Linked DNA regions of Homo sapiens: region 2 is linked to region 1. A link means that fine-mapping ties the variant in region 1 to the expression of a gene that starts in the linked region. Tissue or cell type: aorta. Region 1 holds a variant in brackets; the other region holds the start of a gene. All regions are shown on one strand. Distances are between the middles of the regions.

Region 1 (8,109 bases):
CCAATTTTTTGCTTCCCTTTCCATAGATTCTCATTGTTGACACAGACTTATATTTTCATTCATATCACTGACAGAACAACATAGTCTCTGAGTCTTTCTTAATACTGTCATCCCTTAAGGAAAGCACACTAAAAAATCTTTGGTATCATGTGCTTTCCCCAAATGTCAGGTGATCCTAAACTGTTAGTTCACACTTAAGAATAAGGCACTAAACCGCAGTGTGTACATCGTATTTTTACAGATGGAGGCATAGGTTCATGGGATTCACTTTAGGGTAATCGGGTAGCCAGCCATCTGCATCCCACCTCGAAAGGGAAATGCACATATCAGTAAAAAGTTATTCTCCAATTTCTTGACTAGAGATATAAACCTGGTTACTGGCTTTTGGGAACTTGACAGGGAAATGGGGCTAGAAATCCCACCATTCAGTATGCTACTTTTATTTTAGTGCACCTGTTTTCATACGGCACGTCACCCCTAGTAAGCTCCCAGGCCTGCAGCCTCTGATGCAGTTCTTCCAGACAAGGAGTCTCCTGCAGAGGTGGGGAAGGATTCACTGTCGGACACTGTGTGGTCTTGAAGTCAAACAACACGTTACATAGATTTCAGATCATCCCGTGTTCAGCCCCCATCTCTACTTTCTGTGGTCGCTGCCTACTCCTAGGCCAGTCCAATCTTTATGGGATAAGGAGTATGTTTCTCAACGGTCCCTCACACATCCCTTCTCCCCCACATACAAGTAGCACCCTATTACTTGTATATATATAAAGAAAAATAAATAAATCAAAGGTTCTAAGTCCCTCAATTTAAAAAAAATTCTCAGGAATACATTTCAATTCTCAAAATACATTTCCTGTGTCTTTATTAGATGGTTGCATAATATTTAAGAGTTTTACATCCTTCTTTTGAGCCACAGGCTATGCCCATAAATGTATCTATATTGCCCATGTTTTGGCTTTAAACAGGACATTTTAAATTTCATCCAGAGAGAGACTAGCAAAATGGTCTTGTGGAAGTTGATTTTTTGGTAATATGGTACTCTACAAGAGCAATTGGATGGCACATACCAATTCTAGACTTGGAAATAGTACTTTCTTTGATAGTAAATAAAGTTAAGAAGGATTAGGTAATGTCTAGTTATATACTATTATAAATGCAGTTTAGCTGGAAGAGAAGAGAACTTTCATTGCCAACTGAAGGGGTAGCTGTCTGCTGTTGTCTATGAGTAAATGATGATACATGCAGACTGTATTTCTTTCTCTCTATATATAAATGTGTCAAGTAATAAATGTAAAAACATTGAAGCTCATTCTTCCAACATCTTTTACTTCTTAAATATACAGTTTTTTTGAATCTTTGCCAGAAATACATAAGTTAACAAGACAAATGGCCGGGTGCGGTGGCTCACGCCTGTAATCCCAGCACTTTGGGAGGCCGAGGCAGGCGGATCATGACGTCAGGAGATCAAGGCCATCCTGGCTAACGTGGTGAAACCCCATCTCTACTAAAAATACAAAAAATTAGCCAGGCATGGTGGCAGGTGTCTGTAGTCCCAGCTACTTGGGAGGCTGAGGCAGGAGAATAGCGTGAACCTGGGAAGCGGAGCTTGCAGTGAGCCGAGATCACGCCACTGCACTCCAGCCTGGGTAACAGAGAAAGACTCCATCTCAAAAAACAAAACAAAACAAAACACAAAACAAAAAATTATTAAAGTTTTGTTTGGTTTTTATCCCTATTTTTGTGCCATAATTTTCATCGTTTATGTATAAACATATAAACATTTAAAATACATTTTTGATTTTTTTAAAAAGAACAATTTGATTCCTTGTGTAGAAACATTGGTATTTCTATCTGTGATAAATTAATTTTCTAATCTAATAAATAGTGTGGGTAATTGGTTAAGAATATTAACATAATGGCCTATTCCCTCAGTCATTTTATTTATCTAGAAACTTTACACACTATATCAGATATCATGAGAAAAAAGTTGCCGACTATATCATGACCTTTGCACTCAACACTGCCTATATGTTTTCTACTAAAAATGCCTCTTTGAGAGGCAACTGAAAACCACAGAAGTTCTTTATGAGTTTATTCTCTCATTTTATAATTCTAGGTCCAATTCTTTATTCAATAATTTCAGAAGCCAAATTTGTCTTGAAAATATTCCTATTGCCAGACAAATAAATGCAGCAATCCAGAAAGTTCTGCAATAGACATAACTACATATGTGAATTTAATACTGCATATGAATTGTTTCTGGGGAAACAACTGAATTTTCAGTAAGTGGTACTGGGAAAACTATCGGATGAAAAAGAAAAGTTGTGTATCTAACCTGATTCCTTACACCAAAGTAAGCTCCATGTGGATCTTTCTATGGTTTGTGTTTTACAGTAATATGCCCAATGGAATTTTCTGCACTGATGGAAACGTTCTATATCTGCACTAACACAGTGGTTACTGGGATAGTGGACTCCCAAACCAAATTTTTTATTCAAATTAATTTAAATTCAATATAAGTAGACACATTTGGTGAATGGCTGCCATACTGGATAGAGTAATTCTAACACGCTGGTTCTCAAGGTGTGATACATAGACCAGCAGCATCAGTATCTGCTGGGAACTTGTTAGAAATGCAAATTGTCAAGCCCCAGCCCAGATCATTAATCAGAAACTCTGGGAATGAGGAAGAGCAATCTGTGCTTTGACAGGCACTCCAACCTATTCTGATCATACTGTAGTTTATGAAGTTTATGAAACTGATCTAGAGAGAAGAGAAAAAAGAAACAAGTAAAATATATAAAATATCAGATGGTGTTACATGCTCTGACAAAAAAAAAAAAAATAAGGAAAGAAGTTAGGAATGTCCTAATTGAAAAATGACACCAGAATTGAGACCTTGAAGGGACTGGGATATCTGCGGAAAGATAGCTTTGACAAGTACAAAAACCCTGAGGCAGGAATGTGCTCTAAGTGTTTAAAGAAAAACAGAAACTAGTCGGCTAGTGAAAACAATAGGCATGAAATCAGGGTGATAATCTTGTAGTGTTTAAAGGCCTTTCAAGTGAAGACTTGAGATTTTACTGAGTGAGACAGAAAGCCTCCAAAGAGTTCTGAGGAGTGATGTGATCTACTCTACTTTTTAAAAGGATTACATTCTGGTTTTTGTATTCAAAATAGCCTGGAGGAGCAGCTACAAGGTTATTGCGAAAATTTAGGTGGGAGATGGTGGTGTCCTGGACTACTCAGATTCTAGATACATTTTGTAGGGAGCTGATAGGATTGAAGCTAATGCAGAAAGGAGACAGAGACAGAAAGAGGAGCTAGCCAGTGGAAAGAGGGCAGGATTGGAGGGACAAAGTGGCAGTGTTGCTGAAAGTAACCAACAGGAGACCTAAAATGCAAATTTCAATGGTTTGCTATGTGATGTGCTTACTATAACTCTACAAGCCATCACTAAGGTTCTGGTAGCCTTGGGAGGTGTCAAATAAAGGATGAAATTTCAAAAGCAGAAACTGAAAAATATGAATCCAGAGGTGGTAAGGCATAAAGTCAGAGCCAGAGGTGACCCCAAGAACGTAAAACTCTTGGGAGTTTACAATGAGATTATAAAGGGCATTGAACCTTCCACAGGAAGTGGAACAGGGGTTCAGGCCAGCCTTACTTAGATCTTAAGCAGCAGAGTGACCTCAAGAAGTTAACTGGGTTCTGTGTGTACATAGATGTGAGCTCCCCTCTAGCAGGACCACATCTTAGTAATCTTTAGGCACCTGGCTAGGTCGCTGTTGTCGAATGGGGAATTTAGAGAAAACAGTGATTAATTCTGCTTGAAAGTCAAGGGGCTCAAATGCATAGTAGACTAATACAACTGACACATGAGAAAGCATACTTGTTGAGAGGAGGTTCATATGCTTTAGAAAAAAGTAACATGGTGAAAGCTCTGTTGTTTTTTATAATTAATAAGCTTGTTTTGCCTAAGCCATACCATCTTTACACAAAGGTGAGACATAAACATTAAATAGGGTTAAGATCTTTTCCAAAAATAGACTCAGACTAGTTTGAATGCTTTAAATATTTAATTGAAGCCTCAGCATTCAGCACTGTAACACAGGAAAGCTGACCCTGACCACAAGATTTTGAGGTTGGGAATTACTGACTGTCTAGCTTTACCATAAAGGAGTCATAACACTACAAAAGTAGGACATTAACTTTTAAGCAGGTCGTGCTTCCAATGGAGCTGCCGCTGGGGTTAACTAGTCACAAAGTGCACCCACAGGAAATAAAATAATCGCTTGAATAGAGCTCAGAATTATCCACCTGGATGCCAAACTACTTCTGCCAAAGATAACAATTCTGGTTGGATAATCATCCCCTAGTTGATGCACCTGAAGGCAGTTGGCTAATGGGTTTGACCACAGGATCACCACAGAAAAGATGCCTGTCTTCCTGTTTCCTAAGGCAGGAGCACACGTGAGCAGTCCATCTAAAACCTGA[G/A]GCAAATCATTAAAAGTGGAAAAGGATTGGATGAACATTATAATCACTCCTCTATATTATTACACCACATTGAATTTTGGGTTATTTTATTACTCAGCAGAGTCTGCTTTGCATTAACATTATTTACAGAATTTTTTCTCTTGTAAGATAATATAATAATTTTCTAGAGGGCTGATTTTTTTTTAAGACTCTAAAAGCTCTTCTTTGAAATGAAGAAATCCCTATGAGATTTCCCACTTCTTTCAGAAATAAATAACAATTCCCTGGATTAGTTTCATATCTGTACCTTGTAAGTGCACACCAACAACCCAATTACACATACCAGTAATAGTACAGAAATTTTAAAACATTCTCTATTGCTGCTGATGTTTATCAATCTTATGCTAACCCATGTAGTTCAGTAATGAGTTCAGGAATGAAGCAGTGCTCTCTCTGTGTGTGCAAGAAATGAAATGTACCAGGTACACGAAACAAATAGACCCATTCTCAAAATTGAGAATGCTTATTATGCTATAAGAAATATTTTGAAGAAAATAACACATGAAATTAAGATTTGAAGATAAATAGTAATAGGTCAGATTACTAAGCTGATAAGTTCTTAACATACTAAAAATAGATATTACTAAATGTAAAAAGCCCCACAATTTTTAGAAAGTCACCACTTTGGACTCTATCTGGTTGTTTATCTTAGGTGTTATACTCAGAGCTAATTATAAATAATTACCATCATAAAAATTGTGATTTAAGAACACACCTACTAAACACACATACATGCCCCTTATAAAAACAAAAATACTACAAATATATCTCACTATAATTGGGGCAATTTGAATATAGACAAAGGATAACATTTTATTGACATGAAAGATGGAAATCATTAACTGAAAAAAAGCAGGTTACAAATAGCACGTACAATATAATACCATATTGTTGTAAAAAAGAAGTGCACATATAGATGGGTGTACATATATGTGCATGCCTAAGAATAAAAGGCTAGACACTGCAATGTTAGAAGTTGCAATCTGCCTGCTTAATGAAATTGCATTTACAATTTTTTGGCTTATCTGTATTTTCCAACTTTCTAAAACATCTAACTATTGCACTTGTAATCACAAAAATTTAAAAACTAAAATTAGTGCTGAGCACGGTGGCTCACATCTGTAATCCCAGCACTTTGGGAGGCCAAGGCAGGACAATCACTTGAGCCCAGAGTTTGAGGCTGCAGTGAGCTATGATTACACCACTGCACTCCAGCCTGGGCAATGGAGTGAGACCCTGTCTCTAGAAAAATTTAAAAATTAAATTAAGTTAAAAAACTGAAATTAAAAAGGGTCATTATTATAAGGTGTAGACGCCAGGAAAGCAAAGGGAAGAGGGTGGCCCTGCCAGGAACAATGTTCTGAGGACATTTGTGAATACTTTGTCACCCCTTTCCCAACCAGGGGAGCAGGCAGGTGACAGAGGCTGACATTCTCCTGGGCTCAGAGCCATGGGGGACATGGGAGGGCAATGACAGAACCTAGATGACAGGATGATTAAAAACTCAAATAGTACCGATTAAAAACTCAAGTAGTACTGTTATGTCTAGGTACTTGCACAGTTAAAATGCCAACTTTTGTTTTAGGCAATTACAGCAGAATAAGGATCTAAACCAAAATTTAAGCATCTTATATAGTTAAACATGGTTTGTACCACCCTATAGATTTTTGACAGTTAAAAAAAAATTACCCTGCTATAAACATATATTTATCACACATTTGTCATCACTGGACACTTCTCAATAAATATAAATATGACGTGAACTTCAGAAATTTTTCTAGATCCATACTGTTGTTACTCTCGTTTTTTCAGCAAAAATCCCACACCGATCCCTTTATCTTGTCATTTTTCATAGTCTACTTTTTCCCAATAGGTGGCGCTGTAATCCATGTAAAATGCTCCCGAGTTCCTCAGCGGACCAACCCTATGCCAGGCAAAACCGCGGGCTTAGGCTCAACTCTGCTGTAAACTGGTGCTATGGGACAGGTAAATCAGGCTGAAAAGCATGTGCGACATGTCTCTGGGTTATTTTATGTGAAAAGCCCAGAGAGGTGAGGTGACTTGCTTGAGATCACACAGCAAGTCTAGAACAAACTGTAACTTCTAGTTGGGACTTCTAGCTTGGAGTTCTGTGCTTTCTTTGTGTTTTCAATTATGACATCTCACATGTGCTCCAATCAAAACAAATTCCTATTTGTGGTAAGGGCGTAAAAGAAATATCTTCCTCTGTTATAAATGGTGCTTATTTCTTCCTCCCTCTTGTAGGAAAGTGTGATAGCATGCCATTGAATGCTCTCTCAACAGGCTAAGAAGGATTCGTGTCAATCTTTTCAGATTTCCCAAAATGAACATTTTGCTTTAAAAGTTTAGCCTGGAGAAAGGGAAAAGAGGAAAAAGGAACTAATACTTATTCAATGAGGAATAATTACCTATGAAGCTGATACCCGACTATAAGATGAAGACCATATACAGATCATATACAAATGTACCCACATATTTCCTTATTCTATGTGGTTTCTATATCTGTTTAGTCTATAAGCTCACTTTCATTAAAAATTAACTTTTCCCAAGTACTAGCAGACACCACTGCTTATGCTGTTGTGAAGTATAGCATTTTCTGAGAAGAAGAGCCACGAGTTCTGTAACAGTAGTCCTTTAATGTTCATTTCTAGAAAGGCAAGGAACTGCTTTGACTGGTGAAAAAGATGTTTATCGATTATATACATGATACACAGACACACAGAAACAGGTTGAGTATCCCTCATCCAACATTCTTAAGGCATGAAGTGTTTTACATTTCACATTTTTTTTCAGATTTTGAAGTATTTGCATTACACGAGTTGAGCATCTCTAATCTGGAAATCCAAAATTTGAAATGCTCCAATAAACATTTCCTTTGAGCATCATATTCACACTCAAAAAGTTTTGGAATTTGAAGCATTTGAGATTTTGGATTTGGTATACACAGTCTATACACAGACGCACACATTTATATATGTGTGCAAACATATATACATACATACACATAGACATACACACACATACATCTATACTACACTGTATCTTATATATAAATTAAATATTTTAATTCCTCCTTCTTTCAGTCCAACCATCCATGATATTAGGATATGCAGAAATGCCCAAGAGTTTTCAGGTTAGCATGGCAACCCCCGCCCAATGTAAGCAGAGCCTCACAAAGGCAAGATAGTAGAGACATGGTGACTTTTGGTCATTAAAGAGATGGCATCACTAAGTTCTGGTACCAAAAATAGTTGAGCTGGCAGATGGCTACCAACCTAATTCAGGATAATAAGTTTCTCCCTGAGCATAAAGTCTGTGACCACCGCCAACCCCACTGTGTTTCCTAATCTGAACAAGCTCTTTGGTGAAAATCAATGTACAAACAAGTGCGTTCTTCTGAAGATACCACTGTGCACTCACATTCCCCAAAATAGAACATCCTGAGCCCACCTGTGCATGAGATCTATGGGGGGACTTTCCAAAAATATTCCCCAAGAACACATTTTGAGTGGGAAACTTATTTCTGAAAAGTGAACTGAGGCATATAAGTTTCTG
Region 2 (8,109 bases), 110 kb after region 1:
CATGAATTAGATAGGAGTATATATGTATGTATATGTATAGTATACATAAAATATGTAATTATATATGAATGTACATATTACATTTGAATATATATAAAGTTGCATGCAATCTTTTTTCTCGAAGGAAAACCGAAACTGTTGTGACTCAATGTCTTTTGATATCTAAACTCTTAACCTCATAACGAATTCCAAAAAGAAGCCCATAAGATACAGAACAACAAATATAAAGTGGATACTTCTGCATGTTACTAAGAAAGTGATCTAAAGCCAGGCACAGTGGCTTGTGACTGTAGTCTCGGCCATGCAGGAGGCTGAGGTGGGAGGATCACTTGGGCCCAAGAGGTCAAGGTCAGCCTGGGCAACATAGCAAGACTCCAGCCTGTCTCAAAAGAAAGGGATCTAATCTAGAATGGTAAGGGATTAAAGCAGTACAGTAGAGGCCAAAATGAAAGACATTCAAGATGACCACAGGATCAGACCCTTTTAAGGCAGGGACTTCACCAGCACAGACCCTACGGCAGCCACTATTTCTGCACACCATTGCTTCCACTGAAAAGAAAATGACACCCAACCCATATAATTCACAATGTCGTAGAATGCTAAATGCGAGTTAAATGTGTGAAGGCACCAAACAAACTTCAAACTATCCCTTTTGATGTTACAATTATTATTTAGAATGTTTCAAAGAAAAAGCAGCAGCTGAGAGGCCATAAAACAATTTTATTTTCCTAAAATACTCATTCCCTGAATGGGCTAATTTATCATAGAATTAATAAAAGTGAAGATAAGGATATCAACTACATTTTTCCTGAAATGTATTAAAATATTACAGAGTTAATGGTTAAATATAAGTTATCCGTTAAAATGTATAACGTCATGGTATGTTATATCATACCATGGTCAAGAAAAGATAAAAAGCAATTAACAAAATGAACTAGGCACTTGGAGTTTTTCTTCTGGTTTTACTACTAATTTGCTGGGACTTCAACACACTCAGTGTTTCTGAGCTTCAGATTCTCATTTATAAAATGTGGAGAACAAAACTTGGTGCTATGTTAAAATGACATGTTACAACAATGTAAAACTTGGAAAATTACAGAGGAATTCTTTCCAACAGTAATATCCAAGGATAAAGACTAAACTAGGCTTCATTGTCTATTAAAGTAATGAGTTATGATATAATTAGTCAGTTTTATAGCAAGAAATTTATCTCCAAAACCTAACAATTATAACATATTAAGATTTCTGCCTGCCACTTCCCAAATACCCTTATCTAGATATTTTTCCCCCAGTTTAAACCTTTTATAATTTGGGTTTTTGAGAGAGAAGAGAAGCAATACTGAATATTAAATATTCAACAAATCTTATATGACAGGCATTCGGAATATGCCAAAGGACAAGTTAGACAAGTGAAATAAGACAAATGAAGTAGAGAGGTAATTTTTTCATGTTGATATTTTTCAGGTAATGATAACTTCTCTGAGTAGAATAATGTAAGGCAAAATGATAGAACTACTGTGTTATTTTAGATAAGGTGTTGACAGATTTTCCCTACTTAAATTTGAAAAGGGGACGGCAAAAGTCCTTTACAAATGCTTGACAAATTAGATAAGGCTCTTTTGTACTTTCTTTTTAAGCAAAGAACTTATCAGTTTAACCTTTAAATTCTCAAAAGTGGCTGGGCGCACTGGCTCATACTGGTAAACCCAACACTTTGGGAAGCCAAGGTGAGAGGATTGCTTGAAGCCTGGGGTTTCGGATCAACTAGGCAACATAGCAAGACCTTGTCTCTACATTAAAATAAAATATCAAGAGTAAAGTCTGAAGGTTCTTACTACAGTTATGCTTGCCAGCAAAAAGTGTTCTTCTGTTTCTTCAACACAGAGCCATCTGACCTCACCTATTTTACTTAAAAGTCCCCAGTGACTTCTGAACACCCATGGGTGTATTTTGTGAAAGCAGGTATGTTTTTCTTTCTTTTTTGTTTTTTAAAGTACCTTAACCTAATCCATTTCCAAATCCAATTTAATTCTATCTCATTTTGCAATCCCTGAATACATTTCGGTATCCTGACAGCTGTCTCATCGTCAATTCACATAATTTTGCAGCTCCACTTAGGAACCTTGCTTGTATGCTCAATATCTTTCTACCGATATATTTCTTTACTCATCCTAATGTGAGAATATATGTCAGGATATATGAAAATATTTAAGCAATGAAAAACCTGGGGAAAGAAAAGAAATGAAAGTCAACAGTGGGAGTAATATTTGCAGAAAGGAGAAAGTTAATTTGAGCAAAATGAAATAATTAATACACTACATGTTTCCTCTATGTAAAAATTATACTAAATATCTTTTAGATTAGTCATGTTGCTTTGAGACTTTTCCATGTTTCCTCTAGACAGCTGCCAATGTTCGCATGGTCTCTGATGAATAAACATGCTGTGACTTGCTTCTAAGGAAACGCCTGTCATGTTCCAGGGAAAAATGACTTCTACACTCTTAAATCAGGAAAACTGTACAAGTCTCATTCATTAGTGACAACGTCGATTTTTCCTTAACGTTTCTATTTCTGGAATGCTCGTATTCTCATTAGGGCATTTCTGCATTCAGATTAACTAAGAAAATAAACTATGTTGGAGGAACACTTATGCTGGGGGGAAAAATCTTGTACTACATCAAACGAGTTTCCTACTTGAGAAACTCAACTAGCATCCAGGTTACTCCTGAACTATTTACTAAGACCAAGGTTATTTTCAGGTTTTCTTCATCTCTTGCAGAACTACCTGTTCTCATTACTGTTTACTCAAACGCTTAACAAGGTAACTATTAGCATATCTGGCAGGAAGACATGCCTCATTTAATATTAACTCACCATGTGACAGCCCCCTTCCTCTCTTCTCAAACATGTGAGGATAAAAAGAAAAGTAGAGTTGTTTGCAATCTGATTTGCGCTGGGTTTTGGAACCAGCAATTGGCCACAGGCACACACACCCCCAATCAGAGGCGCGCACCCCGCTCGCTCCCGGAACTGTCATGCGGGCTGACAGCTGGCACACCCTCCTGTCGCCCTCCACCCGCCTGCAGAAAGCCCACTCCCTACAGTCACCTTGACATTGCTCACCTGCCTGGGCCTCAGCCCATGACCAAGGAAACTTTTGCCCTCCCTCCCCAGGAGCTCACTTACAGGTATCGTCCACCGCTCCCCCAGAGCCCAAACAAGGGTCCCTTTGTTACAATTTTTGCTCCCGGACTCCTCACCCAATTCCTGGCATTCAGCTGGCCTGTAGCAACCCAGGGCAGCCCCGGTAGGAAGGCAACCAAAAACGACCCGAGCCCTCCGCCCGGGCGGCCTCCGAGAAGGCCGGGAGGAAGCAGCCTCCCCGGCCGCGTGGAGGACAGTCAGTGAGTCAGGCCGCCGGCAGGGCAGCGAGTTGCCAGCCAGGTGAAACGGCCGAGGCCTCGCTGTCCTCGCCGGCCTCGCCCTCCCCGGTGAGAGGCGGCGCGGCGCTCTGGGCTTACCTGGCTGGGGCGTCCTGCGGGCGCGGGGTTCGGCCGTCCATCGCCCTGCGGGGCGCTGCGCGGGCTCCAGCTCCCAGGCGGCGCGTCACTGCTGGGGTGGGAGAGGCCGGCGGGTCAGGGCGGGACGCGCGCCTTCCCGAGGCCGGAGCGAAGCTGGCTGAGCGTCAAGAGCCCGCCCGAGCCGCTCCAGCCCCGGCCGGCCCGCCTCCCGGGTGCGCTTCCACCTGCGGGCCCCGGCTCCCAGCCCGCGGGCGCCGCCGCCGTCTCTACAAGGTCTAGCGGGCGCCCAGAGCACGGCGGAGGAGGCGGTGGCGCTGCAGCCCCCGCCCCGTGGGGTTTACTGGGTAGCCATTTGGCGCCTCTCGGAGGGAGAGGAGCCGCCGGGGCTGGAAAAGGAGGAGGAGCGGGGCCGGGCGCACGGGCACCGCTGCCACGCCGGCAGCGCACTCCCAGGCTCCTCCGGCCGAGTTTGCACAAACAAAACGCCCTAGGAAAACTTTTCCCGAAGAGAAGTTGGGAGGGCTGATCTCTCTTTTCCCACCCAAGGCTCCTACGTTCTTTTCCAAAGGAGACAGTAGCTCGCCTGTTCTCCCTCGCGGCTTCCTCTCCTACTCTTCCCTTCCCCGGCCCGCGCTCTTGCCGCTCGGCTCTCAAGCCAGGACTTGAATGGAGAAGCGGCAACCCCTGCGAGGCTCAGCCCAGCGCGGGCAGGGCCGACTCAGCACCTCCCCTGTCCCGCGGGCGGGGTGCGGGCGCTGGCTGGGCGCTGGGGGCCTCGCTGGAGCCCGCTCTCTCACTCACCCTGCCCCATTTCCCTGCCCGGAGTCCGGGAGCTCGCCGCCGCCTCTGCAGCACGGCCGCACATAAGTGGGGACCAGCTCGGCGGCATTGGAGCGAGGGAAGCAGCGAGCCGGAGAGAGGAACGGGGCGGGGGTGGGCCGGGAGCAAGTTGGAATTTCCTTCCCCCAGGGCTTCGGGTCTTTGGGGTCCGGCTGGGGAAGCTGAACCGAAAGAAAGCTCCCAGACGAGGTGTTCCCATTCCCACCGCTAGGCTGCGCTTCGGGAAGGCTGGTGCGCCTGAACCGGACAGGTGCGGGGGAAGGGAGGTTACCTGCCTTGCCAGGATCCGCGGGGAGGATTGGGGCCTCCGCGGAATGCGGTCAGAAACTCGCAGAGTGGGGCCTGCAGCTTGCCCCCCCTAGAGTCCGACCCTCGACGTCCAGGATCGTTTTTTTAAATTTGTGTTTTTAACTTGACCTTTAAGATTGCCATTCTTTTAAAAGCGCACCTGTGACACAGATCTTTCTAATTGGTGGCAGGTTTAAGCTTGCCCTGTCTTCAGAGGCATTTTTTGTAAAAGCCTATAACAGCTCTGACATGAGAACTGGACAACAGTATGTCTAATGACAGTCTATAAACTAAGAATTAAGTAATAGATTGTATTCACTTATTGGAACTTTTACAAGGGTAAAGGAATCAGACACAGCTGTGTGCTTGTTTGTACGTTTTAGTATCCACGTGCATGCCCTTTAGATGATTCTTTACACCTGACAGACAGGTACTAGGTTGGTGCAAAAGTAACTGCGGTTTTTGCCATTTTTTTTTTTTTTAAAAAGTAATGACAAAACCGCAATTACTTTTGCACCACCCTAATATATTTACATATTTTATATTTTTCATAAGCGCCAATTGTTTTAAGATGCGCGCCATTCTGATGGGCCCAAAAATGTGTTTTCAGAAAACAACGTGACATTAAGAAATGAATTTAAAATTAGAGTTTTAAAAACATATTTGGATTAAACTGATGGAGAGATCTTACAGGAAGGAACATCCTGCAGGGGACTTCTGTTGTAGCACTAACATCAAGTAATAAACCTGTGTTAGCCACTGATAGAATAACATTTGGCAGGTATTACAATTAAATTGATATTAATGCTCCTTTAGTTGGTTATCCATTGCAGCAACAAAAAAAGATTGCTGAACTAAATGCCTAGCAATGTGCCATTTGTCTACCACACGCAGGCATTGGTATTTATTTCTTTCAGTGCATAATGTCCTTTCAGTGCATCTTAAATATGAAAAGAAAAAAACACATGGCTCATTTGGATTACAATACTGGAACCATATTAGAAAAAGTTGCTTTTAGAGATTTTAACTAAGAGTAAAGCAATTTATTTAAATACCTCTGGGTTTTAGTCTTTAAACAATAACTCTGTTTAAACAATTTCATGAATCATTTATGCTTCTGAATACAGAGCTGTGCAAGCTTTTACAGTTGCTTGCACAGACAATGATGCAAATATTGAGTAACAGTGAAACTACTTGAAAGTCCATAACTTTCAATCACAAGACAAGATTAAATCTTTAATTAGTTTCAGCCTTAATTTATGACATACTAGTAATATTATGGACCCTAATACCAGTAAGATTAGGCTAATCTTAGTCATAAAACATTCATAACATTTCGTAACCACTGAAGGCATTTTCAGTGCTTACCACTTTTTGCTGTCCTCCTTCTGGTCCTAGGGAGAACTATATGCTCCACCCCATGGAAATTAGGTATGACCCTGTGACTTTGATAAGTGGAAATGTGAACAGACATGAAATGCTTTATTTCCTGGTGAAATTACTGCCAGTGTTTGAGTCTCTATGTTCCCTTCCTTTGCTACTGCAATCATGAAAGCATGTATTAAAATGAAGGTGACACAAGACTGGAATGCTAAACTATTACCCAGAGCACAGCTGCCCTGGAGAGTCCCAGGACCTACAACAGAATCCACATAAGCAAGAAATAAGCTCATGTTGGGCAAAACCACTTAAGAGCACCACCAAGCTTGGTGGTCTTCACATAATGGTACTAAGCTATCCTCACTGTAGCCAGTGATTAGCAAAATAATAATCACAGATTTGCTATAAATCTTTTTTTTTTTTTTTTTTTTTTTTTTGGAGAAGGAGTCTTGTTCCTGTTGCCCAGGCTGGAGTGCAGTGATGCGATCTCGGCTCACTGCAACCTCCATCTCTGGGGTTCAAGTGATTCTCCTGCCTCAGCCTCCCGAGTAGCTGGGATTACAGGTGACCACCACCACGCCTGGCTAATTTTTATATTTTTAGTAGAGACAAGGTTTCACCATGTTGGCCAGGCTGGTCTCGAACTCCTGGCCTCAGGTGATCTGCCCACCACAGCCTCCCAAAGTGCTGGAATTACAGGCATAAGCCACCATGCCTGGCTGCTATAAATCTTTTCACATAACAGGAGAAAACTGCTGTTTTCCAATCTTTCTAGTTATGCAGAGCTGTTTCAAAATTGCCCACGTTTCCAAGATTGCGCTCAATTTCCCCGTTTGGGAATCTCCCCCTCATTTCACCACCCAGCCGATCATTTTAAGTGCCTAAGCATAGGTATTATCCCCTCAGGAATACTTCCCTCATTGCAGAAATAGAAGTAGCCCTTCCCTTTCTTGGCCCCCAGTAGGTTCTGTTAGGTAGGGCAAGGACCCATGACACTTTGTTTCAGTTATTCATTTACATAATGCAGAGTTGGAGGGGTTTATTCTCTTTTTTTTTTTTTTTTGAGACAGAGTCTCACTGTCACCCAGGCTGGACTGCAGTGGCATGATCTTGGCTCACTGTAACCTCCACCACCCAGGATCAAGTGATTCTCCTGCCTCAGCCTCCCGAATAGCTGGGACTACAGGCATGTGCCACGTGCCCGGCTAATTTTTTATATTTTTAGCAGAGATGGGGTTTTACCATGTTGGCCAGGCTGGTCTTGAACTCCTGACCTTGTGATCCGCCTGCCTCGGCCTCCCAAAGTGCTGGGATTATAGGCGTGAGCCACAGTGCCCAGCCTACTCTTAAAGGACCACGTCTTATCCTTTGTCTCCTGAAAGCATAGCCCAGAACACAGGAGACTCTCCACCAGTATTTGTGTACTGAATAAAGGAATGAAGGAAACCTTCAGGCCTTCCCTCCTCAGAAGAATCCTAAAAGGAACTTGATTCAGGGAAAGACTTCAACTCAAAGGGGCTGGTAGGCCATTTTAAATGGAACAGATGGAAGGTGAGTTTGTCTTACTAGAGAAAGAAGACTTATTCTTCACGTGGTTACCTAATGGGGTTAGTACCAAAATCAATGGGTAGAATGAAGCTAAATGAAGGTCCACTTAGCTATATATCTCTCTGAATAATAATCTAGGTTTCATATTCCTCCTGGATAGTAATAAATGGAAAGGAGGTTTACATGCTTAATAAATACCTGTGTGCTTATATAAAAAGCAGATAGGCATGTTAAAGTGGGCCATAATGGTTGGAGTTTGTCTAAAATTTTTGTAAACTATTTGGAATAATGAAAACATTTTTAAATGCTTATTTTAAGTATGTTTTTATTCCACTATAAGTACCACTTGAAAAGCTTTATTTAAAACTGAAAAATTACACTTAAAAGATGGTTAATATCTTTCTGTGCATTTCACCTTTGCACATTACAACCTAAAGGAAGTGTTTATTTTATGTCTTCTTAGATTGTGTACATGTGTGTGTTTGTGGTTTTATATAACAAGATCAGAGTTGTTACATTTCAGTTTTAATAA

Alleles and levels. Positions count from the first base shown, and alleles are read on the strand shown. Sizes are in standard deviations (SD) of each study's normalised expression.
In carriers of allele G in region 1, the expression in aorta of the gene that starts at base 4,189 in region 2 tends to be lower than with A alone (small effect, 0.15 SD a copy in GTEx).

The links. PIP is the estimated chance that this variant, and not a neighbour inherited with it, causes the effect.
Region 2: COBLL1 starts here. The variant in region 1 is fine-mapped to the expression of COBLL1 in aorta (GTEx, PIP 0.93).

Annotation. Positions count from the first base shown.
Region 1 is chr2:164,731,386-164,739,494 of GRCh38, forward strand. All of the region lies in intron 3 of COBLL1 (cordon-bleu WH2 repeat protein like 1), which reads right to left. Among named protein-coding and RNA genes, the nearest start is that of SNORA70F, 48 kb to the left of the region's middle. The variant G/A (reference allele first, on the strand shown) is at 4,495.
Region 2 is chr2:164,837,635-164,845,743 of GRCh38, forward strand. COBLL1 (cordon-bleu WH2 repeat protein like 1) reads right to left here and starts at 4,189. Exons shown (of 14, transcript NM_001365672.2): 1 at 4,076-4,189; 2 at 3,522-3,612. The coding sequence starts at 3,562. It overlaps LOC101929633 (a long non-coding RNA gene), which reads left to right and starts at 3,115. Exons shown (of 2, transcript NR_110574.1): 1 at 3,115-3,188. RefSeq lists a silencer at 4,163-4,372.